Linked DNA regions of Homo sapiens. The protein of the gene in region 2 purifies or fractionates together with the protein of the main gene of each other region. This does not show direct contact. Each region holds a gene or a part of one and is shown on either strand. Other genes may lie near its edges. The genes, in order: HSPA12A, EPB41L3, VANGL1 and AP3B1.

The links.
Region 1: the proteins of EPB41L3 (region 2) and HSPA12A purify together in Homo sapiens (affinity purification with mass spectrometry; 4 studies listed by BioGRID and IntAct, with this or other methods). This does not show direct contact.
Region 3: the proteins of EPB41L3 (region 2) and VANGL1 purify together in Homo sapiens (affinity purification with mass spectrometry; 2 studies listed by BioGRID and IntAct, with this or other methods). This does not show direct contact.
Region 4: the proteins of EPB41L3 (region 2) and AP3B1 purify together in Homo sapiens (affinity purification with mass spectrometry; 2 studies listed by BioGRID and IntAct, with this or other methods). This does not show direct contact.

What each region holds. Positions count from the first base shown.
Region 1 is NC_000010.11:116,731,659-116,740,706, reverse strand, and holds part of HSPA12A (heat shock 70 kDa protein 12A), read left to right. Parts: intron 1-9,048. UniProt on the Homo sapiens protein: Adapter protein for SORL1, but not SORT1. Delays SORL1 internalization and affects SORL1 subcellular localization.
Region 2 is NC_000018.10:5,540,998-5,550,692, reverse strand, and holds the start of EPB41L3 (band 4.1-like protein 3), read left to right. Parts: upstream 1-6,695; 5' UTR 6,696-6,780; intron 6,781-7,633; exon of another isoform or gene 7,634-7,864; intron 7,865-9,695. UniProt on the Homo sapiens protein: Tumor suppressor that inhibits cell proliferation and promotes apoptosis. Modulates the activity of protein arginine N-methyltransferases, including PRMT3 and PRMT5.
Region 3 is NC_000001.11:115,693,347-115,700,146, reverse strand, and holds the end of VANGL1 (vang-like protein 1), read right to left. Parts: 3' UTR 1,926-6,800; downstream 1-1,925.
Region 4 is NC_000005.10:78,001,100-78,006,020, reverse strand, and holds the end of AP3B1 (AP-3 complex subunit beta-1), read left to right. Parts: intron 1-2,965; coding exon 2,966-3,119; 3' UTR 3,120-3,695; downstream 3,696-4,921. UniProt on the Homo sapiens protein: Subunit of non-clathrin- and clathrin-associated adaptor protein complex 3 (AP-3) that plays a role in protein sorting in the late-Golgi/trans-Golgi network (TGN) and/or endosomes.

The DNA.
Region 1 (9,048 bases), on a different chromosome or scaffold from region 2:
CACACACACGCACACACACACACACACACAGACACACACACACACACACACACACACACACACACACACGGTGCTGGGAGAAATCCTGTCCAGGATGGGGACACCCATACCTGGTGTGCCGAGCCACCTGCCACCGCTCTTCTGCGTTTGTTCTGGAGTATTTGTTTCTTCACTTCCAGTCATCTCCAGCTCAAGGTGGCCAGTGAGAATTCCAGGTGCATGGACTTAGGACAGAGACCAACCTGAAGAGCGGGCTGTCCCTGGCAGCTCACTGTGCCTCTGGGCACCTCTCCCTTTATCTGTAAAATGGAGGATGTGAATAGTATTGCATAGGAGCAGAGTTGGCTTGCCCCTGGCCCCTACACTTATTTCTAAGGTTTCCTCATTGCTGGGAAAAGAGCGTGCATTATTTTATTGTTTTAAAGGCTCACAACAAACCTGTTACCAGCATTCTCCCCTTCCTGGGTGGGAAATCCAAACACAGGTTGAGTGACCTATCCAAGGTCACACATCTGGGAAGTGTTGTTTGGGACCCAGGCCATCTGATTCCAGGGCACCAACCTGTGCATACAGCCCTTATGCATGTGTGCAGTGGTTACCACTCTATTAAGGACATAAAAAAATGGTTGTGCTTCCTGGGAAGGATTTCCAGAATGTTTTTGGTACAAAAGGATGGGTGCCACAAATATCACACTGTTGGAATTTGTGAGCAGTGGCAGTCCTGGGTTGGGGAGGGGTTTGCTGGTGGGTAGGTGGTGTTGGGGGGTGGTGTCAGAAAGGCTGGCCATGAAATCTTCTCCAACAAGTGCAGTTGGGGTGGGGTGGGGAGTGGGCAGAGGTGCGTGCCAATGAAACAAGAATGGCAAAATGTGGTAGTTGGGTGATGGGGAGCGGCGGTTCATTACTATTCTGCTTACTTTGTGTATGTTTGCAAATTTTCTTAATAAGATGTTTAAATTACTTAATTTACAAAATCTGAAGGGCCACACTTGAGGGTCTGGGTGTTGGACAGCAAAATTTGAGATGACCTTCAATCCTGCCCCCTCCCGCATGACCTGAGTGGGTTGACACATGGAGCCCTAGAAGGGTGAGATGAATTGGGGGTGGACAGAGTGGTTCGGACAGGGATGGCTCCTATGGTGACCAAGTCAGGGCTAGACATGAAGAGTGGAAACCAAGTCATTTTTTCCAGGGCACGGGCTTGAGGAGAGGGATGGTGGGCAGGCAGTTTTGCCTGGGTTGAGGGTATCTCTCGAGGCCTGGCATTGGGCTTTGGAGATGCCATCCTGGAGGTTCATCTTAATAAAAATAAACATTTTAAACGTTCACTTTTATTGAGGACTTAGTGTGTGCTGAAACCTGGGAATATTGAGTTATCTCATTTAGCCCTGACCACGTTTGTTGTTGAATGAATGACTATGAAGGACGCCCTGTGATCCCCATTTCACAGAGGAAAAAGCTGACAGTCCTAGCAGCGCACAGCTGGAAGGGGGCCTAGGTAAGGACCTAGGCCATGGGATGCAGGCCCCAGGTGGTCAAGCTGAACAGCCTCTCCTGGCATGTGCCTGGCATGTCATAGGCCCTCAGGGACTTGTGTTGAGTAGGCCTGCGGCTAATAGAGAGTGGCTGCCCTACTTCCTTCAGCCACCAAGCTGTAGATGGTAGTGACAGGGCGCTGGTTATAGCCCCCAAAGGAAGTAAGCAAAGGTCAGGGTGATGCTCTGGGCATTGCAGGTTAGGGTTCTGGCTATGGGATCCACTTCCGTGTCAACATCTGCTGCTGCAACTTGTCTGCCGCCTTGGTGGTCCTCCCATGCCTTCTGTGTATGTCCCTACACAGTGTCTTGTGTTTCCCAGAGCCTTGTGATCGCCTTTGGCCCTGGACACATGCAGTCCTCCCTGCTTGGGACATCCTCTCTTTGTTTAGCAAGGTCCTACTCATCCTTCAAAACTCAGTTAAGGTATCACCTCTCAGGAAGCCTTCCTGGGCTCATCCATCGGGATGAGATCTGCCTGTGTGGTCCCAAAGCCTTCGGTACTTAATGGTTGATAATTCCAACTAGTGTTTGTTGAGGCCCTACGATATGCCAGCTTTGTATGCCTGTATCTCATTGACTCCTCCAGCAACCCTGTGAGGCTGGCATTATTATTACCCCATTTTGCTGATAAGGCAATTGAGGGCTTTGAAAAACTTGCTAACTTGCCCAACCAGTGAATGCTGGAGTTGGGATATGAGTCAGCCATGGAGCCTAAAATCTTGTGCTGTTTCTCTCAATGCTCTTTCTTCCGAGAAAGGCGTGGACTATGTCTTTCATTTCCATTTTTTTTTACTAAGGACACTAGTAGGTGTTCAATAAATGTCTTACTTTTTGTTGAGTGTCAGTCAGCAAGACATGAGGGAACACAGCAGAGGGCAATGGCGTCTACATCTTGCCCACTCCGCAGTGGTGCTCCTGGAAATGTGGATGCTCAGGAGTGGGCCAAGCTGGAGGGGAGTCAGGCAGGGCTTGGACAATCTCAGAAGAGAAGCTGCTTTGATTCCAATAAGGCCTGGAGTGACGACTCAATCTTGTGGGGGCGAAATGCTCTCTTTTCATATAAATAGGCCTCTTTGGTAAGGGAGAAAGCATCTTTATTACTGCTGTGCATAATTAGAACAGCGGGGAGGAATCAGGGGCTTTTAATGAATGAGCAGCGTGTGGCAGGGAATGAGTGAGCGCCTGCCACTGCGGGCACCCCCAGGCCTGGGCATCCCCAGGAGTGAGCGGGGCCAGCGAGGAGACGACCAAGGAAGCACAGGCAGTGCTCAGAATTGAAACCTGCCCCACTGAAGCGGGCCCTGCTGATCCTTGCTGCGTTCCTGTCATTGCAAATGACTCCCAGGCTGCAGCTTTGCAGATGCTGCTCTGAGCTCTGCCAGGACCACCCCTCTTCTTCCAGCCTTGACCGTGACCTGGCAGCCGCAGATGTCCTGCGGGGCTGGCAGCTGCTCCATGGCACCCCTTCTGGGCAATCCTGAGCTGCAGAGTTTTTGCCTTGATTTTAGTCCCCTTATTTTTAGGGTGGCCATATGTCCTGGTTTGCTGGAATAGTTCTAGTTTATGCCTCTTTTCCTAGTGAAATTAGTAATAATGATATCTTTCACCTTCTAAGTATCTCAGTTTGGAAGGTGAATTATGTGGTTGCGCTCCTTATCTTTGTCTTCTCAGCCATCCGGGCCTCAAGACGGATGAGGGAGGCAGTAGGGTGTGCAGGTAAACCTGGGCTTTGGTCTCAGATGCTTGTAACATCTGGGTTTAACGTTGCTGCATCTGTTTTTTCTGCTGTAGACAAGGACGATTAATAATCTCTGCTCTACTGGGGTGCTGTGAGAATGAAATGAGAGAGTATTTGTAATGAGCTTAGGTATGAGCCTGGTACACAGAGGGCTCTCAGTAACTTCCAGTCATTTTATTATCATTGTTAGGTTGATTTGGGAAGCGTAGTGGTTAAATGTGAGATCTGGGGCCAGACTGCCTGGGTTCAAATCTGTGCTGTGTCATTGACCTGCTCTGTGACCCTGGCAAGTTACTTAACCCCATAAAGCCTCAGTTTTTCTCATCTGTAAAGTATGGATTATAACAGTCTCTTCTTCATATGGCCTTTATGAGAATTAAATGAGTTTTTATATGAAAAGCACTCAGAGTAGAGCCGGGCATGAAGTAGACATTGAATTAATATGAGCAATTATTATTGGCTGTTATTGTTATTATGAATAAATGTCCCAACTTACATTCTTGTAGGCAGGAGGAATTATCCAGTACATTTGTTTCCTATTGCTGTTGTAAAACTTACCACAAATTTAATGGCTGAAAACCATACAAATTTATTATCTTACATTTCTGGAAGTCAGGAATAAGTCCAAAATGGGTCTCCCTGGGCTAAAACCAAGGTGTTGGCAGAACTGTATTCCTTCTGGAGGCTCTAGGGGATAATCCATTTCATTGCCTTTTCAAACTTCTCGAGGTGACCTGCATTCCTTGGATCGTGGCCCCTTCCTCCATCTTCCAAGCCCATCACTCCAGCCCCTGCTTTCATTGCCACATCCCTTCTCTGACTCTGCCCCTCCTCCTCCCATTCCCTTTCTAAGGACACTTGTATGAGGACCTCTTATTAGGCCTACTTGTGTAATCATTTCCCCATCTCAAGATCCTTAATTTAATCACATCTGCTGACTCCCTTTTCCCATAGGAGATAACATAGTCATCGGTACCAGGGGGCTATTATCGAGCCTCTCATAGCCAGAAAGATTGGAGTCTTGCCTAGGTTTGGGGTGTTGGAGAGTCTTCTGTGTCCCTCAGGAGCTGTCTGAAGTTTGGAAATGACTCCTCCTCCGTGTTGTACATTAGGTCAGGTTCCTCGTGCACCTGCTGCGGGTTGCCCTCCCTGGAGTTTGGATTGTGGATCAACCCTTGACTTCTATTCAATCTCAGTAGGGTCCTTAGAGACATTGTTACTTTTAGGGCTGATTTAGCCCCTTCTGAGGGGCCCATGACTCATTGAGATCTGAATAAAAAGGTTTATTGGCTCCCAAGCAGGGAAAACAATCAATGCATTAAACAAGTTATTGAAATGTCTATAAAATGTCACATTATATTTGCTTTTACTATGTAGCAAACCACCCCAAAGTTTAATGGGTTAAAACAATAGTCTTTTTAAAAAAATTTATTTTAAGACAAGGTCTTCCTCTGTGACCCAGGCTGGAGAGCAGTGGCGTGATCTTGGCTTATGTAAGCTCTGCTTCCTGGGCTGAAACGATCCTCCCACCTCAGTTTTGTGGGTAGCTGGGACTAAAGGTGCACATCTCCATGCCTGGCTTTTTTTTTTTTTTTAAATAGGGACAAGGTCTCACTATGTTGCCCAGGCTGGTCTCAAACTCCTGGGCTCAAGCAACCCTCCTGCCTCAGCCTCCCAGAGTGCTGAGATTACAGGCATGAGCCACCGTGCCTGGCAACAATAGTCATTTTATGGCTTATGATTCTCTGGGCAGGTCTCTGTTGGGTGGTTGTTTTGGTGGTCTTCCCTGTGGTCACTTATGTGACTGCAACACTCTGATGGCTCAACTAGTCTGGGTAGTCCAAGATGACCTCGCTCACAGGTCTGGGGGTTGGTGCTGGCTGTCGGCTGGGCTTCGTTCTCCACATGGTCTTTTATCCTCTAAGAGGCAAGCTCAGGCTTCTTTATGTGGTGGCCTCAGGACAGCAAGAGGATGAGAGGGGAAGCTGCAAGGCCTCTTGAGGCGTTCCTGGGAAGTCCAATAAAATCACGTCTGCTGTATTCCTGGTGGTCACAGCAAGTCTTGAAGCCAGCTCAGATAGAGGGATGGAGAAATTGCCTTCACCTCTTAGTGAGAGGACCTGCAAAGAATGTGTGGCTATTTTTAATCTAACAGAGTTGGCTTGGCAAAAATGTTGAAACTACAAACTTTAGAAAACTATATTATGCTTTAAAGCAACTTGTAGGTTAGATCTCACTTCTTAAGACGTTCTGCAAGTGCCCAGTGATTGTCTGACACTTACAATTATTTGTTTGTTGTGCTAGAACATGTGTTTCTATAAGTGATAAATGAAGAATGATGGTGGTATTCAGAAAAGTTGTGTTGGCACATTCTCAATTTTTCCCAGTATGTTTGCACTTTGACAGATCAGGATGAACTTTTTTCTTTTTTTTCTTTTCGAGACGGAGTCTCGCTCTGTCGCTCAGGCTGGAGTGCAGCGGCTCGATCTCGGCTCACTGCAAGCTCCGCCTCCCGGGTTCATGCCAGTCTCCTGCCTCAGCCTCCCGAGTAGCTGGGACTACACTCGCCCACCACCACGCCTGGCTAATTTTTGTATTTTTAGTAGAGGCAGGGTTTCACCGTGTTAGCTAGGATGGTCTCGATCTCCTGACCTTGTGATCTGCCCTCCTCGGCCTCCCAAAGTGCTGGGATTACAGGCATGAGCCACCGTGCTCAGCCCAGAATGCACTTTTTTCATGATTGAAGGCTAATATATGAAAAAAGCAAAAAAAAAAAAAAAGCTGAAAATCTGTAGATGCAACTACCTTTAGTGTAAGTCAGGGCTGTTTTAGTATTGTTCCATTCCCCATTCCCTTAAGCTCTGTTGGCAGCTGAGAGGGCAGATGAAGGAGCTGCAAAGACATTGTCCCTATAAGAAAATGATGGGTATGGGTGTGTGGGTGACACCCTGGATGGGTTTTGCTTTTTTTTTTTTTTTTTTTAGACAGAGTCTCGCTCTATTGCCCAAGCTGGAGTATAGTGGTGTGATCTCGGCTCACTGCAGCCTCCACCACCTGGGTTCAAGTGATTCTTCTGCCTCAGCTTCCCGAGTAGCTGGGACTACAGGTGTGTGCCACCATGTCCAGCTAATTTTTGTATTTTTAGTAGAGGCAGAGTTTCACCATGTTGGCCAGGCGGGTCTCAAACTGCCTGTCTTGGTGATCTGCCTGTCTTGGTTTCCCAAAGCTCTGGGATTACAGGTGTGATCTGCCTGTCTTGGTTTCCCAAAGCTCTGGGATTACAGGTGTGAACCACTGTGCCCTGTTGGGTTTTGCATTTTGATGAGAATGGCCCCCTAAGAAGTGAGTGCTCCGTTACTGTTTTTGGAAAGGTTCCGGTAGCAAGGTTCCGCAGGTGTGGAGTGATGTACACCGACCTTGTTTTCCTCATGAATCCTGTTATTTTTAGTGTATGGGTTTGTAGAATGTGAAGATTTGTAGGAAAATATGCTGCATTACAGTGGAAGTGCTTGAACAGATGCTCCTTGACTTACAATAGGGTTACGTCCCTATAAACCCATAAAAACGTTGAAAATATCATAAGTTGAGTCATCCTAAGTTGAGGACTGAGTGTATTTATATTTGATGTGGGATAAGTGTTCATTTAAAAAATATTTGCTCCGATATGGGGTGGAGCCTCAAATAACAGCCAATAGGAAGAGCCTACAGTCACTTCCTATTCAGTCATTTGAAATTTTGAGACTGCTTTGCTTCCCAGATGTTTGCATACTTAGTGGGTAGTTTTGTCAGTTATGTTCAGAATTTTAATGTCAGAAAACAGAGACTCCAGGAGTAAGTTCTGTAGGATGGAGCTCCTGTTTCATCGACCCACTTAGCACCCAAGATCTCAGAGGGAAATGGATTACGCCAGTGCCCTTTGCTTCCTATAAACTGACAATTAAATGATGTCCCTTGGGGCTTCCTATGTTTTGTAAATCAGACCTCGTGATCTTATTGGTTTCTCTGTGATGAGGAACAGTGGTTCCTGTACCCAGGCGGCTGGTTCTGTTTGGGACAGGGAAGCTGTAGGTATTCGGGCTCCAGCCTGCTGCCTCTGAGGCCTCAGGCTGGCCTCTCTTTGCTTGTCTCCCATGTTTCCTTGGGCTGAAGGCTAAACTCCTCTGGCCACTTACTTCCTTTTCTTTCCTTTAGTCATTGTCCCTTAGTGACCATCTCCGCTGGCTGGGATAAGAAACTGTTTACAGCACAACCATCAGGCAGGAGTCTGTGCCCAAAGGACAGATGAAAGTTTCAGAAAACAACTGCTTGTAGTCAGTCCACATGGCTGCTGGACCGATTTGAAGGGATGATGGTTATCAGTTTGGGTGGTGGTTTCCCTGGGCCAGCAGTTAGAAAACAGAGCTCATGGATACATCCACAGCTAGATGGGACCAGGTTGTCTAATGTCTGGACTGGGCCCACCCTCTCATTTTACAGATGGGGAAACTGAAGTCAGGGAGGGGAAGAGACTGCCCCAGGACACTAGGCAAAGCCAGGCTCAGAATCGAGGTCTGCCGACTCCCTCTGCATGCTTTCCAGCTGAACTCCGCAATGGCTACAGAATCCTCCAGCAGTCCCGCCAGCCACTCCCGGTCACTCAGAGACGGCACAAGGATCCAAACCTCCTTGCCGTTAACAAATTCATGACTTGTCCCTCCAGCAGGAGTTACATTTTAAAAAAGTATTTGAAGAATGCTTAACTCAAAGGAATGAAGTGCCAAGTCAAATTGCTGTGAATAAAACACTCTGCAATGGTGGAGCCGCAGGCCCAGCTTTTCTTTTCTAGTCTCTTGTGTGTTCCCTCACTTGACAGTAGTGGTTGCCCATCTTTTTGTGCCTTGGCTCTTGGCAGAATGTCTGTTTTGAAAGGGTTTTGATTAGGGATTTTGGTTGCAGGTAAGTAAACCTTCTCTGGCTAGAGGAAGCCAAAAAGGTAACTTTACAGTGAGGATCCAGGGCTGGTTCCTGGAACTTAAACCTGCTGCTAGGTCTAGGAGGGGAAAGTGTTGGGAACATGGCAGTTTTCTTTCCCTCTGTCTCTTTCTTTCTTTCTTTCTTTCTTTGTTTTTTTTGAGACGGAGTCACCCAGGCTGGAGTGCAGTAGGGTGATCTTGGCTCACTGCAGCCTCCGCCTCCCGGGTTCAAACGATTCTCCTGTCTCAGCCTCTGGAATAGCTGCAATTACAGGCATGCACCACCACACCCAGCTAATTTTGTAGTTTTAGTAGAGACGGCGTTTCATCACGTTGGCCAGGCTGGTCTCGAACTCCTGACCTCAAATGATCTGCCTACCTTGGCCTCCCAAAGTGCTGGGATTACAGGCATGAGCCACCACCCCTGGCCCTGTCTCTTACTTCTGCTTTGCTCTGCATGTCACCCACCCCTCCTCTCTGCAGGACCACTTTAGGATTGCTTCCCATCTTTAGGGCAAATGTGGCCCCCAACAGTGACCCCCATGTTGAAATGAAAAGTTCTGATACACAGGAGGTCTGATGTCTGTCTGTTTTTCTTTCTTTTCCAAGTCCAGATTCCCAGACGAGGCCGCAAGATTCAGGTATGATCAGGACTTGACCCAGAAACAGTCAACCCTGGCCAGAAGAAGGGTTACCTTGCTGAGAGAGGGGGAGTTAGGGGGCACGATATCTGGTGGTCAGAGAGTAATTATCTCCCACAAATAGTTAACAGTACAGGTGTCTGAAGTAAGCCCTGTGTAGTAAAGAATTTCTAGGTGAG
Region 2 (9,695 bases):
CCAAGTGCCCTCCTGATAGAAGAAGCCTTCTGGGGCATTACTAACAGATGTCATCTGGTATCTCCTTAAACATTCTAACTGGAAACTCACTGTTTATAAAACAGCCTGGCCCATATTAGAATGATGGTCCTCTTTTATTGAGCTGAAATCTCATCCTTTAATGAAAGAAAATATTTCTAAACATATATGGATGTAAAACCAGATTTAAGTTTATAGGGCTCATCAAGTATAAAACCAAAATAACCTTAATAAATTGATAGGAGAAATGCAAGGCCTGAACACTAAAATTAACAACACACTAATTTAAAACGATAAATGATATTGTTTTTCTGAAATAAAATTCCTCATGTTGTGCTTTAGAAGGATGGAGCCTCTGGTCAGTTTCCTTATTTAATTTGGTTCACTAAGTTTTACTAAGCAGCCCAGGGAATGCTTGTTTGCCTAAGTATGGTATACCAAAATGTATTGAAATTCTCTATTTGCAGGGTTTAAGATAGTCAGATCTCAAAGTTAACTAAAACTGCCGGCAATTAGTCCTCAATTTCCCATTTTAATGAGACATCCCTTGGCAACTTTGTAAAAACTTGGAAATTAAGGTCAGAGTTGCAGTGTTACTGCAATCTTTAATAAATAGGCATCTAATCCAATTATTGCTGGAATTGGGAACAGGACAATCCTTTATTGTTATTTATTACTATACTTACTGCTAATGAACTGCTGCTGCAGACTGATGCATGCAATGACAGGATCCAAGCAATAACTCCTGCAAACTGTGAATCGTGTAGTGTAGATTATCTTCAGTTCAGCTCTCGTATATGTCTGAGTGGGCTGTTTTTCCACCCGTTTTCGGTTCCAACTTCTATGAAACATCTATCTGAACGCACTTTGTCACCTGTGGGATTTTTGGTATGGACTGGTCGCCTAGATCAATGGTTCTCAAGATTTGGTGTGATTTATAATCACCTGGGGAACTTGTTAAAAATGGCTGCTCCCTGGACCCCACCCCAGAGCTTCCGACTCAGTTAAGGCTGGACCCCAAAATTTGCATCATTCACAAGTACTTTGAATGATTCTGATATCAATGGTGTGCATCTGGTAGTTTTATTCTTTTTAAGATTTTTATTGACACAGAAATGTAAAACTTAGAAAACTGTTCACAAATAAGCCAGTTTGAGAAACTCTGGTATCCTCAGATTTGTATCATTTACAAATGAGTCAGCCTTGGATATCAGACAAATCCCTAATAAACATCTTGCATAGGAAAGTGTTAGTAGCCAAGGCTTTCTTTCAAATGGCTTTGACCTATTGAACAAATTTATTTTAAGGGACAAAGATATTCTAGATGATGTTCTCAGTGATTCCCAGAGCATTCTGGAAGCTGTGGACTACAGTGGAATGACATTTTCAGGTTGTACCCTCACTGTTGAAATCTGCAAGCCAGTGAGACAGTTGGAAAGGGGAAAAAAAACATGCTGGAAAACAGGAATTAAATTAAGAAACAAAGCTAATGCTTTTTCCTTAGAGTAGTTATTGCTGTATGTTTATTAGTTTATAAAGTTAACCATCACACATTTTCCTAAAGAGGAGATAGCATTAACAAGTTAATAAGCCCGACTTCTGAATGTGTCTTACTATCTATTATTTCTTCCTCTGTTAATTTTTGTTGATAGCTTCTGGGGTGAAACATAATAGCTGATTAGGATTACTTACAGCTTTACAGGGGATGGACAGGCTTGCTGGCATTTATTTTGTCTTTTGGGGGAAAAGTGATTAAAATGTTAAGTGTCTTAGCATATAATTCAATAGTGATCATGTGGTTGAGAGCTGAATTTAATATTACAGATTAACAACTTCCATTCTTTATATTCTAGCATTCATATTTTACCATTCCATATTTATACTAAAATCCTAAATAGAAAACATTCTCAGTGGATTTTTTATTTTTACTTAAGAACAGAATCATTGAGCATTTACATTTAATGAAGAATTGATCACTAGAATAACCCTTACAATTTTATCGTTTAAAAGTACTGAGACTTATTTCTAAAATTTACTGGAAATGGAGAAAGTAAAAAAATCAATAAGGATATGTTTTAATACAATAAAACTTACATACTATGTATGGGTCCACCTTTAAGTCTATTCTTTATATAAGAATACAAAGATAAAAAAGGCAAATATGGAATTCTGATGAATAGGAATGATTTTAAATGGTGTTAGCATGCCTAAACTTGCTCCATCTTATGTATACTTTTCATACATTTTGTGCTACATTTATACTTATCAATACTTTATTTCGTTTTGCATCTGTGCCTTGCATGTAGACAGACCCCTGAAATGGGGTATACAAACTCAATATGAAGAGAGCATCTGGAAGCCTTAATGAGCTGTAAACTTAAAGCTATTCTTAGAACCTAGAAACTCTTCAATGAATTTTTATTTCAGAAGAATAAGCTTGTTGCTTTTGAATTATGCATTCATCCCTGTATTTCTCTTATTTATGGTCCCCAGTAACGCTGTGGCTGAAGACTTTATATCCTGATTTCAAGAACTTGATATGCAATTCAGGTGCCTGACATTATTCTGAGCATAAAATAAACCTCAACTAGTTATTGCCAGTGTTGTCAACATTTCACTAAGGCAGCAGATCAGGTTGAATAAATGAGGCCAAATGAGTGTGAATGTCTATTAGGGTGGCATTTGTAGGGTTTGCTCAAGCGTCAATATTTCTTCAATTTTCATGTTTGAGAGCAAAGTTCAGATAAGTTTAACCAGACTGATTCTCTATTATTTCTTTCTGGAGTCTCATCCATAAGGCTGACAACATGGCTGTCAATACAACTGCAAATTCTGTCCTTGTCTTGGCTATCAGGTTGGAATTATCATTGCTGTTCAGGTAGCAGAATACCAGTTACTCATTCACTCAAGAAGTCAGTACTCTATTGACATTTGTGGTGGAATAGAGGTTCATGGGGGATCCAATCTCTTCAGCTTGGGATGAATTTACACACATATCTTACCTGAAGTAAGCTGCACCCTTTTCTCTGCACCTTTTCTCTGGCTAGAATTCTTGATAGCTGGTGACCTTCAGTGATATAAATTATATAGAGTAATTTCAGGAAGTCCATAAATAAGATTAGCGTAGAGAAAGCCCAAGTTAAGGTAGTGGAGATCAGAATGGGCATCCTAAGACCTAGGCTAGAGTCATGGAATCTTTCCTGACTTTCCATGGATTGTTTCAGTATTTGCATAACACTCTCTTTAGTACTGTGTGGACATAGTAAATTAAGAATCTGAAGAACTGAGTTCTCATGCCAAATTGGCACTAATTCTAGGACTGTGTAAACGGCATTTACTGGACCCAAGAACTACTTTTCTATAACTTATTGAAACAGCACCACAAGGGGGGTTACATTGACAAGAATAAAGAATTCTCTGGGGCTATAGTGGCTTTATTTTTGGTAGTGAGAGGGAAAAGGAGAGAAGTTAGTATTCTAAGAAAGCAAGCAAATTCAATCATAATTGTATCTTCACCTTGCTTTCTACTTTATGTTCCTTCTCCTTTCTGTGTGGAAGAGCTCATTATTTCCTGATGAGAGCTAAATAGTAGGGTTTTCATTATTGCTTTTACTTAGTAAGAGGTGATACATCTTTTAGTTTTATAGGCCCCTAATATTATTGAACCATACAGAATTTTGGAATCAGTCCCTTTTATACATGAGGAAGCCGAATCCCTGAAGAAAAGTGACAGCTTAGTTCATTATTCAATGTCCATTCATTCAGTTAGCAAAAATGTGAAGTGCTTGGCTTGCAATGTGCCCAGTGAGGCACTGTGGGGAGACAGAGAGGACTAAGAGAGGATCCTGCATGGGATTCACAAGAAAGAATGAAGAGATCGCTATTATCAAGATGCAGGCAAGTTGCTGAGGGAGCTATGCAGCTATGCACCCCTCATGAATTTGACGTTTCTTTTTCTCCCTGTCTGTGCTAGGGGGAAAAAAATAATAGAGGAGAGACTTGGTTAAATCCAGAGGATTCCAAAGTAATTGCTTCCAAGATTTCCTATCAAACTATGCAGCAGTATGGTTTTTACTCCAAATTTTCAATTCGTGGAATATTACCATAATTAGGGTTTTGTTTGTTTGTTTGTTGTTGTAGTTTTTTGAGACGAGTCTCTCTCTGTTGCCCAGGCTAGAGTGCAGTGGTGAGATCTCGGCTCACTGCAACCTCTACCTCTCAGGTTCAAGCAATTCTCTGCCTCAGCCTCCTGAGTAGCTGGGATTACAGGCGCCCACCACTATGCCCAGCTAATTTTTGTGTTTTTAGTAGAGACGGGGTTTCACCATCTTGGCCAGGCTGGTCTTGAACTCCTGACCTCGTGATCCACCGGCCTCAGCCTCCCAAAGTGCTGGGATTACAGGCATGAGCCACTGCGCCTGGCTTAGATAGGTATTTCTAATTAAAAAAATACTTAGTTGTCTAACATTTTTCTCCCAAGAAAATTGCCATTCAGACACTATTGCTGATTTTCATCACCACAAAGATTAAGATTCATGAGTCATAAGAAAAAGTTTGCTTTCAATTTTAAAGAATAGCAAAAATACTGCAACAAAATGAATGAAAATATGGAGCCATCTGTGTCTTGAATGATAATGCCAAATGAGTGTTTATTGTAAACAATACAATTTATTCAAGTCCACTTTCAATGGAGTGCTTTAGTGTACATGCAAAAAAGGAAAATGAATTCTTTCTTCATTCACAGACCTTATGTGCTACACACACACACACACACACACACACACACACACACACACACACAGAGTCATACAGGTGCGTATGTGATATGTGCATATATGTCTCTAATACTCATACGCAACACTTTCTGACAGGAAATGCAGTTAATTCCCAAACATCCACTATTGGAACTGTCACCTTTATCTGTCACCTGAAAGACAATTCAGGCCCTCATTACCTCTGGTAACTGTCTTAATACCATAGTCTCCTCCGAACACCAACCTGGTATTTGCCCATCTGTTCTAGTCTTTGCAGAGCCATAAGATTAGTTTTCTTAAAACATTACTTAAGTCACACTTTCTTGCTCAAAATTTCCCAAAGCTACACATCTATAGAATATAGTCCCATAAACTCCATAGCAACATAGTAACTATAATTTTCCAACCTTCTCCCTCTTCAACATGAAAAAACCCTTCCACTCCAGCCAAGGAAATCAAATACCATCCTCCTTTCCTACCAAAGTCTTCCCTATTCTAGAAACCTGCGCCAAGTCTCCCCACGTCTCCGGGCCTCACTGACAGATCAGGCCCACTAATCTTTCCCAGAGGCACGTGTTCTGTATCTTGTCTTTGGCACCCAGTAGCAAATGCAATATTTTTGTGAATCCATTTTTTTCCCTCTTTTAATGAGTCCCTGAGCTCCTGGAGGGGCAACCGGATGATTTGGAGAAGGCTCTATTTTAAAAAAATTAATAACGTACAACATGAAAGGGATCTGATGTACAACACGAGGACTAGAGCTAAGAAGTGTCTTGTATTCAGGATTTTGCTAAATGAGTATATTATAGCTACTCTTGCCACAAGTAGAGGGGTGTTGGGGGAAATGCATAACTATGTGAGTTGATAGATATGCTAATGTGTTCCACTATAATAACCATTTTACTATATATGTATCTTATGTTGTATGCCTTAAATATACATACAATTTATTTTAAAAATTAAAAAAATTTAATATTTTATTTTCAATTTTTGTGGGTACATAGTATGTATATATGTTTATGGGGTACATGAGATGTTTTGATACAGGCATGCAATGTGTAATAATCACATCATGGAAAACAGGAAATCTATCCTTCAAGCATTATCATTGGTGTTACAATTCAATTATACTTTATTTTAAAATGTACAATCAAATTATTTTGACTATAGTCACCCTGTTGTGCTATCAGATGCTATGTCTTATTCACTCTATTCTTTTTGTGCCCATAAAAATATTTCTTAAATATCTTGGTTAGTCGGTTAGATCTTAAGATATTGTGAGATGACCAGGAGTTACTTCTTTCACTTACAAGTCAGTGAGCCACCTCCGCTCTTTAAAATCAAGGTAAATTTCGGTGGAAAGCTTTATAGATACTGGAGAGGACGGAGTAGCTGAGTTGCTGAAAAATGGGCGACTTCTCTTATCAAGCATTAATTCAGATCTTCTCTATTAACATGACTTGAAGACACCACCAACTTGATTTTATTTTCTTTCCAAAAAGAAAAAAAAAATACTGCAGTCCCTAGCCAATAAATAACTCACCTGAAGGTCAGGAACACCCTCTCCCTCCTTTCTCACAGGGGATGTCTGGGAGGGGAGAGGGGTCTGGAGAGGCCAGGCCATCATCTAAGTGGGAATAAAGGGCTAAAGCTATTGGCATTGGCAGCTGTCTCCAGGCGTCGTCCGCGGAGCCTGACCCTGCGCCAGGACGGAGGAGGCTGTGCCCATGTAACTGTCCTGAAGTACTGCGGTGGCCCCCTCCCCCGCGGCTGGGAGGGCAGGCAGGACGAGGTTGGCTTTCCTCGCACGGTCTCTGGGCGTGGGCCCCCGCCGCAGCTCCGCGGAGCCTCGGTGTCTCCTGCAACAGGGGGCGGGGGGAACAGCGGCGAGCAGCCCTGGGCTGCGGCTTCCTCCCCACGCCCGAGTCTCCTGCGCACCGCCGCCGAGGACGCGCGCCCGAGCCTAGTCCCCACGCCGCGGCGCGCCCGGGCTCCCTGCTGATCCCAGGTAACTTTTCCGCCTCTCGGAGTGGGGGACTGCGAGGGGGTCTCGGCTTTACGAGGTGCGGAGGAAGAGCCCGAGGCCTGGGGCGAGGCGCGCGGGACAGTGGGGCTGACGCGTGGCTTCGGCGCCGCGCGGTCTCCCGAATCCCGAGCCCCGCGCCCGGCGCGGCCGGGGTCCCCAACCGCCCTCCCGCTCGCCGGGACCCCCACCGGGCCGAGCCTGCGCGCCGCGCCCCCCGCCCGCTCCGCCCGCCGCGGCGCAGTAGTGGCTGGGCCGGCGCGCAGAGCCTGAGCCCCGGCCTCCGGCCTGGGGGCCTCCCTGGGATCCCTGGCCGAAGGGGCGACTCGGTCCCCGCGTCCCTTCTCCGCCAATTTGCACAAATCCCCCGCCCGGGGCGCCATGTTTTAAGTTGCCCCTCGGGCTGGGGGCGAGCGCGGGCCGGCCCCTCCCCCGGGGAGGTGCGGGGGACAGGGGGCGACACTGCGGCGCCGCCCGGGCGGGTGGCGGCTGGCGGGCCGCGGGAGGGGCCCTGCGCTCAGCGCGCGGCGGCAGCGGGCTCGTCCCGGGTGCAGGCGCGGGCGGGCGCAGCGCGGGGCCGATAAGGTGCGCTCCGCACAAAGCATCCCCGCTGGGCAGGGGGGCCGGCCGCTTTTATATAACTTGCCTCGTTCCCCAAACTGGGGCAGCGGCCCCCGGCCGGTGGGGGAGGAGGAGGGAGCGTCCAAGCGGGGTTGCCCTGGGCCTGGGCACCTGCCGGGGCCCCTCGCCTCTGGCACCCGGGCGCGGGAGCACGGGCGGGCCGGGGGCGCCTGGGTCGGCCTGCCGTGGCCCGGGGGCTCGGGGCGGCGCGACTCACCTGGCGCCCTCGGGGCCGCGATTCTCCTCGGGAGGTGTCTGCGAAGGCGGCTCTGCCGCGGTGGGGGTGGGGAGGCTAGGGCTTCGGACCGCTGGAGTTGGGGTCGCAGCCAGTTCCTGGCGAGTGTTTCCTGGCTGCTGCCGCAGGGGCTTGCTTTTTCGGATTTCCCCTCTAATCTCGCCGGACTTCTTCCCCTTCCCCCCCACGCCCGCCAAGTTCATGGCTTCTGCAATGCGGTGGGTGTGGTTACCTAGTAAATTGTAACTGTGGTCCCTTGCAATGAGAGTATTCTTTTCAATTTTCTTTTTATATTACGGATCTGAAGTTTTCTAGGGTTTTTCCGTTAGTTGCAGCCCAGGGTTAAAGTTGGTAGAGATTGTTGCGGAACAGAACAAATAGAATGATAAAGGAAACATGTGGTGTTAATTACTTGTGGAGGTTGGGCTGGGAGGTCCTGAGAGGGCCGGGCAGTCCTGCTAATGCAGTGCTTCCATTGCGTGTTTAAGTTGTTTCAGCTTTTTTACATTAGTCTCGCGGAATTGCTTTTGCAGATACCCTGCCTGTCCTTTTTGTTGAGGGGGGGTGGGGAGTGGGGCACAGTGAGAATTTTAGGCTGCCTGAGGTGGCCAGGTGTGCTGGAGTTTGTCTTGGTAGCATTAACTTCTATAGTACAGGAAGCGTCACACCAAGTGCTTAAAAACATTGTTTTTGAAATTTACCTTGATTTTTAAAGTCTCAAGGAAACAAAAATGATAAAATTCTGCTTATGTCTGTGAGCCATGGACGTAGTCCCAATTACAGCAAATTAAGCAGAAAAGCCCTATTAAGAAAAGAGAGCAGCACATCAAGCTCCAGTGAACTCTGGGGACTGAGAGGTGATTTCTGTCTTGGCTCAGAGTGAGTGTTTAAAAAATGCATGTTAATTTTGGTATCAAACTTTAAAAACTTTAGTTGGAGTAACAAAATTAATGTGAGAGGGAATAAATACTAAATTGGAGAAGCGTGACTTCAATTTGTTAATTTGCAAGGCATTGATAGCTGAATGCTGAATACTGTCTCATTTGCATTATGGTTTTCTGGTGGTTTAGAAAAGCAAAATATCAGATGCACAACTTACTGCATCAAGTTTATTTAGTTAATACACTTTAGCCAAAATAAGTTTTTCAAAACAGAACATGTTTTGTGAATAATTCATCCATAACAAGAAGAGTAGCCACTTTAATTTGTAAACCGCTTTTAGCTGAAGGATTCAGGAGCTGTAGGTCAAATGTCAGTGTCTCAATGAAATATTTGCGTTTAATTTTTAAGACATTTCTTCTGCATGAATGCGATTTAGGTTAAAAGCAATTTTTTATCAGTTCATGTACACTGCTTGGACTTTGGACAACTTTGTGTTGAAATAAAAGATCAGGATTTTTTTTAACTTGATCGGATGCAATTTTATTTATAATTGTTTTTTAAAAACTGGTTGGTCAAATGTATTAAAGGGCCACCTAGGTAGAAGAGAGGCAACTATCCATGTACTGAGAGATGTGATGCTGTTATCTTGTGAATCTTTTCTGGACTTATATAGTATATTAGATTAAGTGTGGCAGGAACTTGCTGTAAAAGTATTTTCTTCCGTGTTGTATGATGTGCATTCATCTTTTAAGTTAGTGCTTTCCCTAAAATTCACAAATTAGAATTCATGTCCACTCCAGTAAAATAGAACTCCAAGAGTAGACTGAAGAATAAATGTTTCCTTTCTGTGAGAATTTGAGTATATATAATGAAGAGAGAGACTTTTTTTTTTTTTTTTTTTTTTTTTGAGATGGAGTCCTTCTGTGTCACCCAGGCTGGAGTGCAATGGCACGGTCTCCGCTCACTGCAACCTCCGACTCCTGGGTTCAAGCAATTCTTTTGCCTCAACCTCCCGAGTAGCTGGGATTATAGGCGACCACCACCACACCCTGCTAGCTTTTTTTTTTTTTTTTTTGAGACGGAGTCTCGCTCTGTCGCCCAGGCTGGAGTGCAGTGGTGCGATCTCGGCTCACTGCAAGCTCCGCCTCCCGGGTTCACGCCA
Region 3 (6,800 bases), on a different chromosome or scaffold from region 2:
CTAATTTATTTTCTCAATCTTTTAGCACATGTGTAAGACACTGTGCAAATTTTTTGAAAATAGAGCAATACTTTTTGTGGAATACTAGCTAACTAATTCTGTCATTAAACTCATATTTTGAAAATATTCAGACAATGTTGAAAATCCTATCTTGATTTTTCTGACTCTGCTCATTCTCATCTGGCTCCAGTCCTACCTCCTTATTTCTTCTCTATTTTCCTTTCTAGCCCCTCTTCCTCTGCCTGCTCTTTGAATGATGGTGTTTCACAGCATCTCAACTCTACATACTCTTCCAAAATGATGTCATCGTGCCCATCAATACTATCCATGTGCTAATTACCTCCAAATATGAGTCTCTAACCTTGACTCCTTGCCTTATTTTTAGACACATTCATTCAACTGCCTCTGGATATCTTGACTTGTTGTTGTACAAGCACTTCAGACTCAACACAACAAAACCTGAACTCATTGCCTTCTCCCCTAAACATCTTCTCCTCTTCATGGAGTCCTAGTTTGGGTGGGTGATAGCACCATTTATCCAATTGTCTAGGTGACCTGAAGGTGCCCCTTCCCCCCTGTGATTTGTGCATCCCTGGATCATGTCACTTATCATTTAAGGTATAACATATATTTGCATGTCTGTCCTTTCACTAAATTGCAGGCTCCTTAGAGGCAAGGAATTTATCTTAGAATCCCTAGCACTTAGCGCTTTGCCCATCACAAAGTAGATACTCATTTATTGAGTTGGTGGATGAATAATTGATTAACTAGAATACCTATAATTCCCCAGCACTATTGGGTAACAGAGCTTACAAGGTGTCTTAGTCTGTTTTTATTGATATAAAGGAATAACTAAGAGTGGGTTATTTATGAAGAAAAAATATTTATTTCGCTCACAATTCTGCTGGCTGCAATACTGGGCATCAGGTGAAAGCCTTGGCTGCTTCCATTCATGGCAGAAGGTAAAGGAAAACCAGTGTGTGCAGAGATCACATGGTGAGAGAGGAAGCATGAGAGAGAGGAGGTGCCAGCCTCTAACAACCAGCTCTCCAGGGAACTAACAGAGCGAGTACCCACTCACACCCCACTTCCTCCAGAGAGGGCATTCATCTATTCATGAAAGATCCATCCCATGACCCAAGTTCTCAAGTTCTTAAATCACTCCCTTTAGACCCTACCTCTCAATACTGCCGCACTGGGGATTAAATTTCAACAGGGGATTTGGTGGGAACAAATATCCAAATGATAGCACAAAGTGTATTAGCAGGGTTTACTTATGTAGATATAAATTGTGTACATTTTGCTTAATGGCCCAAAGAAACAGCTTATCAATAATCTAACCAATGAATATCTTTGAGTCAATTGCTTTCTCTAATTTCTGTCCATGCAATAGCTAAGAATTTGATTGTGTGCTGTCAAAATTCTACCACTGAGGTTAGCGGAAAACAGGCTTCATATTTCTTTGCAAATAATCAAATTTCCTTTAAATAGACCTATCTAAAATCAGTTGATAATTTAACTTGAATTCCCAAGCCACTCAGGAAAATAATCCAATATTCACCTCCCACATCAACCCAAAGTCTGTTACTTTTCTGTCTTCTTATTTGACTCAAATACCTTTCCACTTGCTGGTTTACTCAAAAGATCTGTTTCATCTCCATGTTTTAGAGCCTGAGGATTTCATTTTTAGTTATCTATTCAAAACATTTTCTTCACTGTAAAATGATTGACAACTAGTAGTTTTTGTTACAATGGTAATTCTACTTTCCCAATCCATCACAATTGTCTTGGTTTTTATAGAAATATGACAGGTTGTCTTGAAATTCTGAAGGTCTCAAAATTATGCGAGAGTGAAAAATGTCCCTGAAAAAGTAAGCAACTTTTTAGATTGAAATAATCACATGAAGAAAAGAAACAAGACACAATTTGATATTTCAGTTTATTTTCCAAGTTTACAGTATAAAAAATGTGATGTGTAAAACATTTTACAGTTAATTGGGATGAGGGGGGGATTATACTGGAGGACCCAAAAAGGAACAAAATAACTTGGGTGACAGGTACACTATTCCATCAGAGACACTAACTCTGTTACTGACATCACAATGAGAAGAAGTTTCATAGCATAAACCTTATGAATGTAAGTAAATGGACCTGTACAGATGGTTGCTGGTAGTGTCATTCATTCATTTACATGCTTGCAAATGTGTCAAAAGAGCCCACTACCCAGTTTATGCAGGAACTCACTCAGGCCTTGTCATACACATATGGTGACCATGAGCAGAGGCTGGTTGGCAAAACTGCCCCTCCTGGTTACAATGTACAGTATTAACTAATCAGAAAGAACAAAAAAGGTCCCTGACCACATTTTTACACAAACCGTTATGACTCTGTCAGGTAAAGACAGGTGGTTTCATCTCTGAACTTTCTAAATTGGTGCTGGACTTGAAATCAGGAAATGTAAAGTCCTTCTAACCAAAGCAATTATCAAATAATCTCCTCTCAAATAAGACCTGCCTGGCCCAGGCCTCTCTGGTTCTCTCAGTAGCATTTCTGTTGAGGAAGGGGTCATCTATAATGTGAGTTAAATCACTGAGCCAGTATCTGCCCCCACCCTCATCTTTGCTGGCATCCTGCACTCTATGCAATAGTTATGGCCATAAATGACTGTTGGAAATCAAATTTGGCTAATCACGCCATAACTTAGGGGTCCCAGAGGAGTTTGCCATTTAATTAAAGCCTACCGTAAACTATTATAAAAATAAATTATTGCCATAGTTTAGATTTTTGTATGTTCCCTTTTTAAAGAATGATGATGAAAAGTAAGCGAATGTTCCATTACCTCTATAACTGAGAGGTGCTGGTAAATGAAAAACAACTGTTTCATCTTTCTACAAGGCCCCTAGAACGGCAATGATGTGCAACTGTCTAAATTCCCTACAACTTCAGTTGAACTAAACTTGTCACCTGCAGATCAGATGCCCAAGTCCCATCACTAACTCCCTGAGCAACAAGTCTCTGGTCCCCACAGATGAAGCTTTCTTAGGCTGAAGGCTTTTTAGAATTAAACACTCCTAAATGATGAGCAACTTCACAACAAAAGGCCATGTCTACAAGTGAAAGCTCAGATAAAGATAAGCACATACAAAACCAAACAACTGTACATTCAAATAATGCTTCCCAAATACCATTTCAGTGCCAAAAGAAGTGCCAAAGACACTTTTAAGATAAAAGCCTGGGGTTTGTCACCTTTGTCCCCAAAGCTTAAAGTAAGTGTCTTTCTTCCACTATGACAAGGACAAAACGCTGATGTTTGTAAGCTGAGAGAGACATAAATGGTAGAGTCTTGGTGCCATATTGAAAGAAACTTTTCACAGTGCTGCACCTGGCTTTAGGAATCTGCTCTTTTGTTGGAGAGACTAAAACAACCCACTAAAGAGGCTTATTTCATAGACAAAACAAATTGGGTTATCTACGTAGAAACGGAACAGGACCTGGGAAAACGGGACTTATAGAGCCCTGAAATTTAATTTTATTCTGAAGTTTTACATTTCTAATCCATCGCATCTTAATTCCTAATGAGATGTCACATGGAGAGATGTGAGCACCATCTTCCCTTTACTGTCTTCCATTGAAAGCAAACAGCAGGGCAGAAAACTATGGTTTATGCACAACTGAATCAAAACTTACTACATATGGGAACAGAGAAAAATGGTTTTCTGAGTCCTGTTTTACGTCTGCTCTGTCAAAAGTCTTGGGGGCAAGTGTGAGAAAGACGGTGGGATGCAAACTGCTTGCTGAGAACACCTACGTCAAGGAGGCCAGGCCAGGGACTCCGGCTTGAGATCCCCACAGGATGGGGCTGTGGACAGCCCCTCTCACTCCAACCAGGGAAGAAGTTTGGGGCATAATGTTGCCATGGCACCAGAGAGAGGCCAGGTCAAGCCCCTGCCTGCCTCCCTGCACCCAAGGCCCAAGGCACGCATCTTGCCCAAGCCAGCAGAGTGGGAGCAGAAGGTGGGGCCAGGCAAAAGCAAAGGGGGGCTGCCAGAACAACAGCATCCCTGTCTTGCAGCAGGTGTTAACACTGAAAGGCTGGGTTTTCCAGAAGGGATTCTCAAGTTCTTTCCATCAAATATCCTAAGATATTTGCTAGCATAGTGGAGAAGCTTTCCAAGGGACAAGGTGTAAATCCAAAGTGAAAGAAGAGATCCTGCCTCCCAATGAACTCTCACCCCAGGTTCTAGTTCAAGGATGTGTCTCTAGGTCCTTCCTCAACATCCAGAAGTGCCGAATCATTTAGACCATACTTCAAGGTACAGTGGACTGAGGGGTTAGAATCAAACATCTAGTTTGAAATTCTGTTAACCAGACATGAGACCTTGGACAAGCCCCTTCCTCTCTGACCTTCCGTTTTTCACCCGAAAAACCAAGATGACTCCTATCTTGAAAGAATGTGGGGATAACAAGGCTGGGTGGAACACGGACTGTGACATACATTACCTGATAAATGTGTTAGTAGCCTTTCCTTTCTTTGACCAAAACATGTTTTGTCAAAATGTGATCCAAAACTGAATTTTCTGAGCATACACTTGGTTAAAGCTCAATGCAGTTATTTCAACAGTGTCTAAACTATCTCATTTCGCTACTGCACTGAATACCAATCAAGAACGGTGGGCAGAAGAGCAATTCTTATTTTATTTATAATGAAATACGACCACAAGGTTACATAGTAGTAAATTCACAGTAGTGATTTTTTTGTTTTTCAGTAACAAATCCGTAAATCACAAACACTACCCAGAAATACTTAAATCACTTTACAATCGCAGGGTCTCTGCTGCAGGACTATTTAAATAAATATGCTAACATTTCTGTGCTACTGTAAGTAACCTATCACTTTTTAAAAATAAAGCCCAATTTTTAAGTTACCTTAAGAAATATCTAGTAAGGCTTCCAGGGTAGTGAAGTTTGAGCAGTAATTTTCTTAGAGCTTGACCTTTGTTTGTTTGTTTCTTGCTGTTTTCAGAGTCCTAAAGCAAGAAAGAGTTTAATGGACTTGCCTGCAGGACAGCAGGCTCCCCAGAAGACAGTGCTGTGCTAAAGCCATTTACTCTAGCGGGAGAAGCCAGTGTCAGTGAGGGAAAGGAATAAAGCAGGGGAGGGAAAAGTCACTGGTTTAGAGCGACCTCTCAAAACACAGGGTTATTAAGTCATCTCTCAAACACAGGGGACTGCAGAAACACAGACACCCTCACACACTCAGCTATATACACAATGACACGTATCTGCTGAGCTACACACCTGCTACAGATAACACAGATGTTAAGATGTCTGACATATAAATGTGCTATCCGTCTGGTAATACACTCAGAGAAATGCTCACATATATGGAAATAAAAACGCACAAACAAATATGCATCCCCACTTAGGGATACTTACACAGCAGGACCCAGATTGGAAGGTAAACCAAGGACTCACTTTTGTTGGTTTCACTGAGTGGCTGGAGCACTCACTCAGTACGTAGGTTGGAGTGGCAAGGTAATCAATTTCTGTCAGTCCAATATGCTGGTAGCATCCCACAGAGCTACAGCCCTTAGGTAAATACATGCACTCGAAAGTGATTATGAGGCAAAATGAGAGAGAAATCTACCACCAACTACTGTAGAGAGGGCAGGGGTGAGCACTTTATCCCTATCCAACACACACCTGCACAGCTAGTCTCTCCATTAAAAAAGGAGTCCCAAGCCCCAGGCAATGAACTACAACACAGCAAACACACCAGGTCACCTGCCTCTTACCATTTGCTGTAAAGAACTTGTCTTCCATGTAGATGTCAAAAGGCAAGAACAGAGGCGGGGGAAGGGAGGTGATGATAGTTGGGCAAAAATTTGGTGGTCAAGTATTTTCTCTAGGGCTTACTTTATGAATTTTAGCCAAAGTATTACAGATTTGACTTAACATTTTGATAATGCAAAGGATGGATGAACTATATAGCTTTAAAATCCTCTCTGAGAATGCATACAGAACTTTTTAACATTCAGTTCATGGACTATAAAAACTGTCCTATCTTCAAAAGTACATATTTAAGAACAAATTATCTACCAGTTAAAACATCACCAGGGAAGAGAGCAATCTCAGATATAGACTCCTCATTAAGTTCTTTAACACTCAATGCTCTAATTTTAATAACGTAGGATGAAAATTATAAAAAATCTATAAACATATAAGGCAAATGAAATCCTGTCTACTATAATGTGAACATACATTCTACCAGCCTTAGGGCGAAGTTTACCCCCTTTTAAAAAGAATAGCCTACCAGTTCCAAGAATTGAAATAAAAATGCATTGTGTTCAATTGTGGGATGCAGCTTTCTGAAACCTTAAATCTTTTAAATGTCATTTACATTGTTCCCACTGCAAAAGTAACTCAAGCTATAAAGAGGTTGAAAGTGCAAAGGCTTTACAAAGATCCTGCATTTTATTTTGTTATTCTTTCAAAAAGAACTCAATACAAAGTCAATATAAAAAAATCAATACTCAATTTAAAACAGAAACAGTAATTTCTGAATGTCTAACATTCTCCTATGCAAAGACTGGGAGAAAGAGGAAGGGGGAGAGAGAAAATAAATTCTTTAATTTAAACCTTTCTTCACCCTGCTGGGAATGCACATGCCAGAGCAAATGAATCCAGCTTAACCCCTTCTGGACTGGTCATTGAAGATAGGGTTGGAAGAACAGTATTTTAGAATGGTGATGAACAGTGTCATTATTAACTATATGTACATACACTTATGGCACTTGGAA
Region 4 (4,921 bases), on a different chromosome or scaffold from region 2:
GTGATCTTAGTTCAAGGCCAAGCACAGAGGTTCTGATGTCAGCCATTAAGTTTAGTATGTAAATATCTGACCCACGCTGACTTTATAATCAATGTTTCTGACATCCCAAAGCTAGCTATTTATTACTTATGAATTAGTACTCTTTCCATAACTATTTTTTGCATGTATGTTGAAGCATAGCCTGTGCAGGAGTTAAATGATGAATAAATCTGGGGTAGTGGTTTTTGCCTTCCGAGGGCCAAAACAAACCAATTTTGATCATGCTGTGTTCCAATTAAATATATCCTTTCTGAACTGTGAAATGAGAATGTCAGAACATCTGATCTTCTAGTCTTCCGCTTTAAAACATTGCTTCCACCATTTGTGTCCACTAGAACATAGAGACCTAGTTAATAAAGGCAGTAGCTTTTACACCAGCTAGCAGATTATGTTGCTAGGATGATTTGCTTAGTGTGTTTCCATTGCAGCGTAAGCAGATGCCTCTTTTCTTTCATACCCCTATTCTTTATAGTACTGAGACTTTTGTGGCAATAGGATTTCAAAAATATGTCCAAGATACTAATTCTAATTTCTGTCAACATACTGACACCAAAATTGACATTTGTCTCTGCCAACTTTATATTAATTGTAACATTAACTCTAAGTTTTTTAATAGAAAAGAGACAAAATGTGCCTTGGGGCTGTGCCACCCTGAAATTCAAACAACAGTGCTTTTGTGTTCCTATTCAGGCATAATCTCCTTCTCTATGGTCCCAAGGCACAAGTGTTAAGTAAATAAAGGGACTAATAAGACTATTGTTTACATAATTATAACCCTGTCAGAAATAGGGACCTCTGTTGAAATATTTGTTGAGTGAATTACACACGTGATGACCGAATCTGTGGGAAAAGTTGCATAAATGAATGGGAAAATAGAGCCACCTCATATCCTTTGGTGACGTGGTTTTACAGGAATATAGAAACAGCATTCTCCTATGAAGCAGAAGAGCCTGAAAAATTTAGACAAAAGAAATGCATAAACCTGTGAGGAGCCTTAGAAAAGAGAGATCATTTTAGGGCTGGTGATCTTTATGTTTCTCAAAGATGAAATTGAGGTACCTAGTTCATAATCTCTCATGTGTACGTCTGAAAAGCAGATGGATGTGTGTGTTAAGAGGTTTATAAAAACCTCTTTAAAAACATTGGTATGATTTATATTCCTAAACTGGTTACTTACAATTGCTTCTCTCAGTAGGAATACTGCTCTGTCAGATTCCTTGCAAGTTTTCAGCATGCTTGTAGAGTGCACAAGCAAATGCCTAGGAAGATTTTCTAACATATTTTGTTGATAGCCCATTAGCTAACATTTTAAAACACAACTTCAAAGTGTTTATAATATTTGAAATTTAGTAAAATTAGCATATCTGTTTTGGTTTGGATACATTATTCTAATTATTGTTGGACAACCTAGTTCATGATTTTATTTGTCCAAAAATGGCTTGTTTGGTTTTAAAAAAATTAATGTGTTATGAGATCTTGATGTTATTTTTTAAAAAACCCAAAAAAGAAATTACTTTTCATTTAAAGAGAATCTGCTTCCTGCTTAAGTGGCTAATATTTTAATTAAGTCGGGAGTGAAGTTTTTCTGAGTGTCTCCTGATAAACTCCCTCTTTTATGTTGATGGTAATTAAACAGATCCCTGTGGACACCGTGGGCTCTGTGCGAGGCCCATGCTAATTGTCAGACATGAGACACTGACCAGTTGGTTTGCTCTTGAATAGTCCGCAGCGTGCTGTTAGCGCGGCAGTTTTATTTTTATGTATTGTGAGCTGTTGTCAGGGCTAACTGGGTGCCATTGTGGCTGAAGATGTTGCGCAAATTGAGGCAGATGGCTCAGATTCAGACACGTGTCATATAGAAAGGGGCAAGGGGATTGGCCCTGCAAAGTGGGGTCACAGCAGGTCACAGACCTGCTCTACACTTGTTAGTGTTTTCAAAAGCTCATGTGCAGCAACTTTGTTTTTCTCCAGTCATCCCTGCAATCAAACCCCCTCCCCCAAAAAGTGTGTGGAACATGCTTCATGTGGAAAAGGGAGGCTTGGGAGGTTCCTGTCCTCTTCCTTCATGACCCTGAGGCTCAACTGTGCATGCAGAATGAATTAGCAGGATTGACAGAAGTTCGTTATGCCTGCAACGGCTTTTCAGTCAATTGCAGTGCTTAAAAGGCTAGTTTTGCTTTTAGTTCCGTGTAATCAGTAGGTTCTTCATGTCTTGGAATTTAGAGTTAGAGCTTTAGACCTCCAGTTTCCTCTGGAAATGTTTTTGTTTACACTCTACAGAAAGAAAGATCTAATGTCCTAAACATTTCAAAACAAAGAAAAAGGGAAGCGTGAGGTTGCACTTAGCTGTCACGTGATTTTGCTTCATGTCATCATTAACATTAGAGATTTAATTTGAATATTGTTACATGAGTGAATTCATTGAAACTTAGTAAGAATTTTATAATGTACGTAAAATTATCTAACTTATTACATAATCATTTTCAGATATGAGGAGTTAAATTTTGAAGCTCTTTGAGAAAGGTACCTTTTCTTAACATGTTTTAAAAATAAAAATACAATGGCTTATTTAAAATGTCCCTATGCATGGTGAAATGTTAAATACCAAGTGGATGAATGGTTCTCAAATATATTGTAATGGAGAATTATTCACATGCATCTATTGTTTAAACTAATAAGTAAAATAGACTTCCTTTTTCTGTTCTGTTTTAAATGTGCACTAAAATTACCTGCTTGTGGTTAGCATGGGCTGGACAGTTTATTGATTTTTCAGAAGAATGCTTGGCTTTGGGTTTTTGGCAATAGGGAGCCTGCAGCAAATTATTTCATTTGACAAAAAAGAGTTATTTTAATCCTATTTGAATGTATGCTATCTCCTTTACCCTCCCCATCTTATGATAAAAGGTCTCTCTTTTTTCTCTTCCAGGTTTGCAGCTAAAACTGTGCACAGTGGGTCATTGATGCTAGTCACAGTGGAACTGAAGGAAGGCTCTACAGCCCAGCTTATCATAAACACTGAGAAAACTGTGATTGGCTCTGTTCTGCTGCGGGAACTGAAGCCTGTCCTGTCTCAGGGGTAACCTGCTTACATCTGGACTTTAGAATCTGGCACACAACAAAAGTGCCTGGCATCCACTACTGCTGCCTTTCATTTATAATAATAGCCCTTCCATCTGGCAGTGGGGGTAGAATACACTCTTGACATTCTTGTCTCCTGCTTTAGAATGCTAGTGTGTATCTATCATGTATGCAATACTTTCCCCCTTTTTGCTTTGCTAACCAAAGAGCATATATTTTACTGTCAGTTGTCTCAACTCTTGAATCCATGTGGCGTTTTCTCTGTCCTGCTGCTTCTTTTGGCCTCCTCGTTTTCCTTCTCTTTTTCGACAATGGTAGACATGAATGAGATATTTAAAGTTCATTGGAAATCTTCTTCCCTACAGCAGTAAGCAAAAATTAGCAAAGAGATAGTCTAAATGGCCTCTCAGCTTGGTATGTGAAAATGAGATCACATACTTTTTAAATCCAAATACAAAAGCATAGTCTCTGCAAGATTTTGTTCTTTGAATTTCTTGATATTGTAATTGATTATTGATAACTGTCATCATGAAATTATCTCTCAATAATAAGATAAATAAACTAGCATATGAATCATATTTGTCTTTGCATTTTTAATGAGAAACTATTAATAATCCTGAAGTTCATATGCTAAAGTTTTCTTATTTTAAAGCAAGTATTTTGAGTGTTACATTATGCAGAGAAGCAATGTGGTTTAGTTAGCGAAAGAAAAACCACTTCCAAACCAAGTAAATTTTCTACTTATAGTTTACTCCAAGGAAAAAAAATTGGTGTATTTAATAACAAAAACAAAAATCTTCATATTGCAAAATAAACATCTTCTAGGTAGTTTTGATCTATTAGTAGATATCTGATTATGTGGCCTGCTGAATAAATTCTTTGAATCTCATTTTTCCTTATGCCCAACTTTGGAAACTAACTAGCATAAACTTATAGAAATGTTTAAAACTAGTTATATGATCAACCTATTAGCATCTTTTCCTAGAGTATTTGTTTTATTTGCTACCTTAAGTTACTGTTTTCAAGGTTGTTCTATAATCAGAGAACTTTTCTAATACTTTCGTACCTTTTTAAAACCAGCTGAAATTTTACTTCCTTTTTGAAGCAAGGTAATGGACTTTCAGGTAGTATAAGCTACTCAGTTCTTTTTGTATAGAGCCACATACATAATGATTTTTAAAAAGTAAAAAGGAAGTGACTGTACATTGCTTGAAGCATTATAGGAAGGCTGAAAAGAAAAGAATGGAATTTTCTTGGAACATACATATTGAAAAGAACAAAACAGAGTCGAAAAATTATTTAAATTTTCAAGCTGGTGGGATGACAAGAGTAAACAAAATTGTTAAATTTTCCTGCTCCAGAAAGAAATATAGCCCTGAATCTCCGGGAAGAGAATGTACAGAAGTGCAATGTACAGAAGCCACGTGTACATTTTGTGCCAATTCCGTACCATGTGTACATTCTGTACCATTCTGTACCAATGTATGGAAGCCACGAGTTCCACTTCCCTCTGGAGCCTGGGCGCTGTGGTAACACACCCAAAAGCCCCTTTGTAATCGCAGGTCGTTGGCATTTCCATATTAGCCTTATTGCTCAGAGCTTCATAACTTTGAATTTTAAGTCAATAACTTTTTGAAATGTCAGACAGAATTTGACAGGTTTAATACCTGTTTTCTGAGGAAGAAAAAAAAATTATATCCATGCTGTCTTCAGGCAGAGGGAAAGTGCATGTTGTGATTGAGAAAGGTCTTATTTTTCCTTAAATTAGGACACTCATCTTTAAAAGATAGTTCACACATTTGTA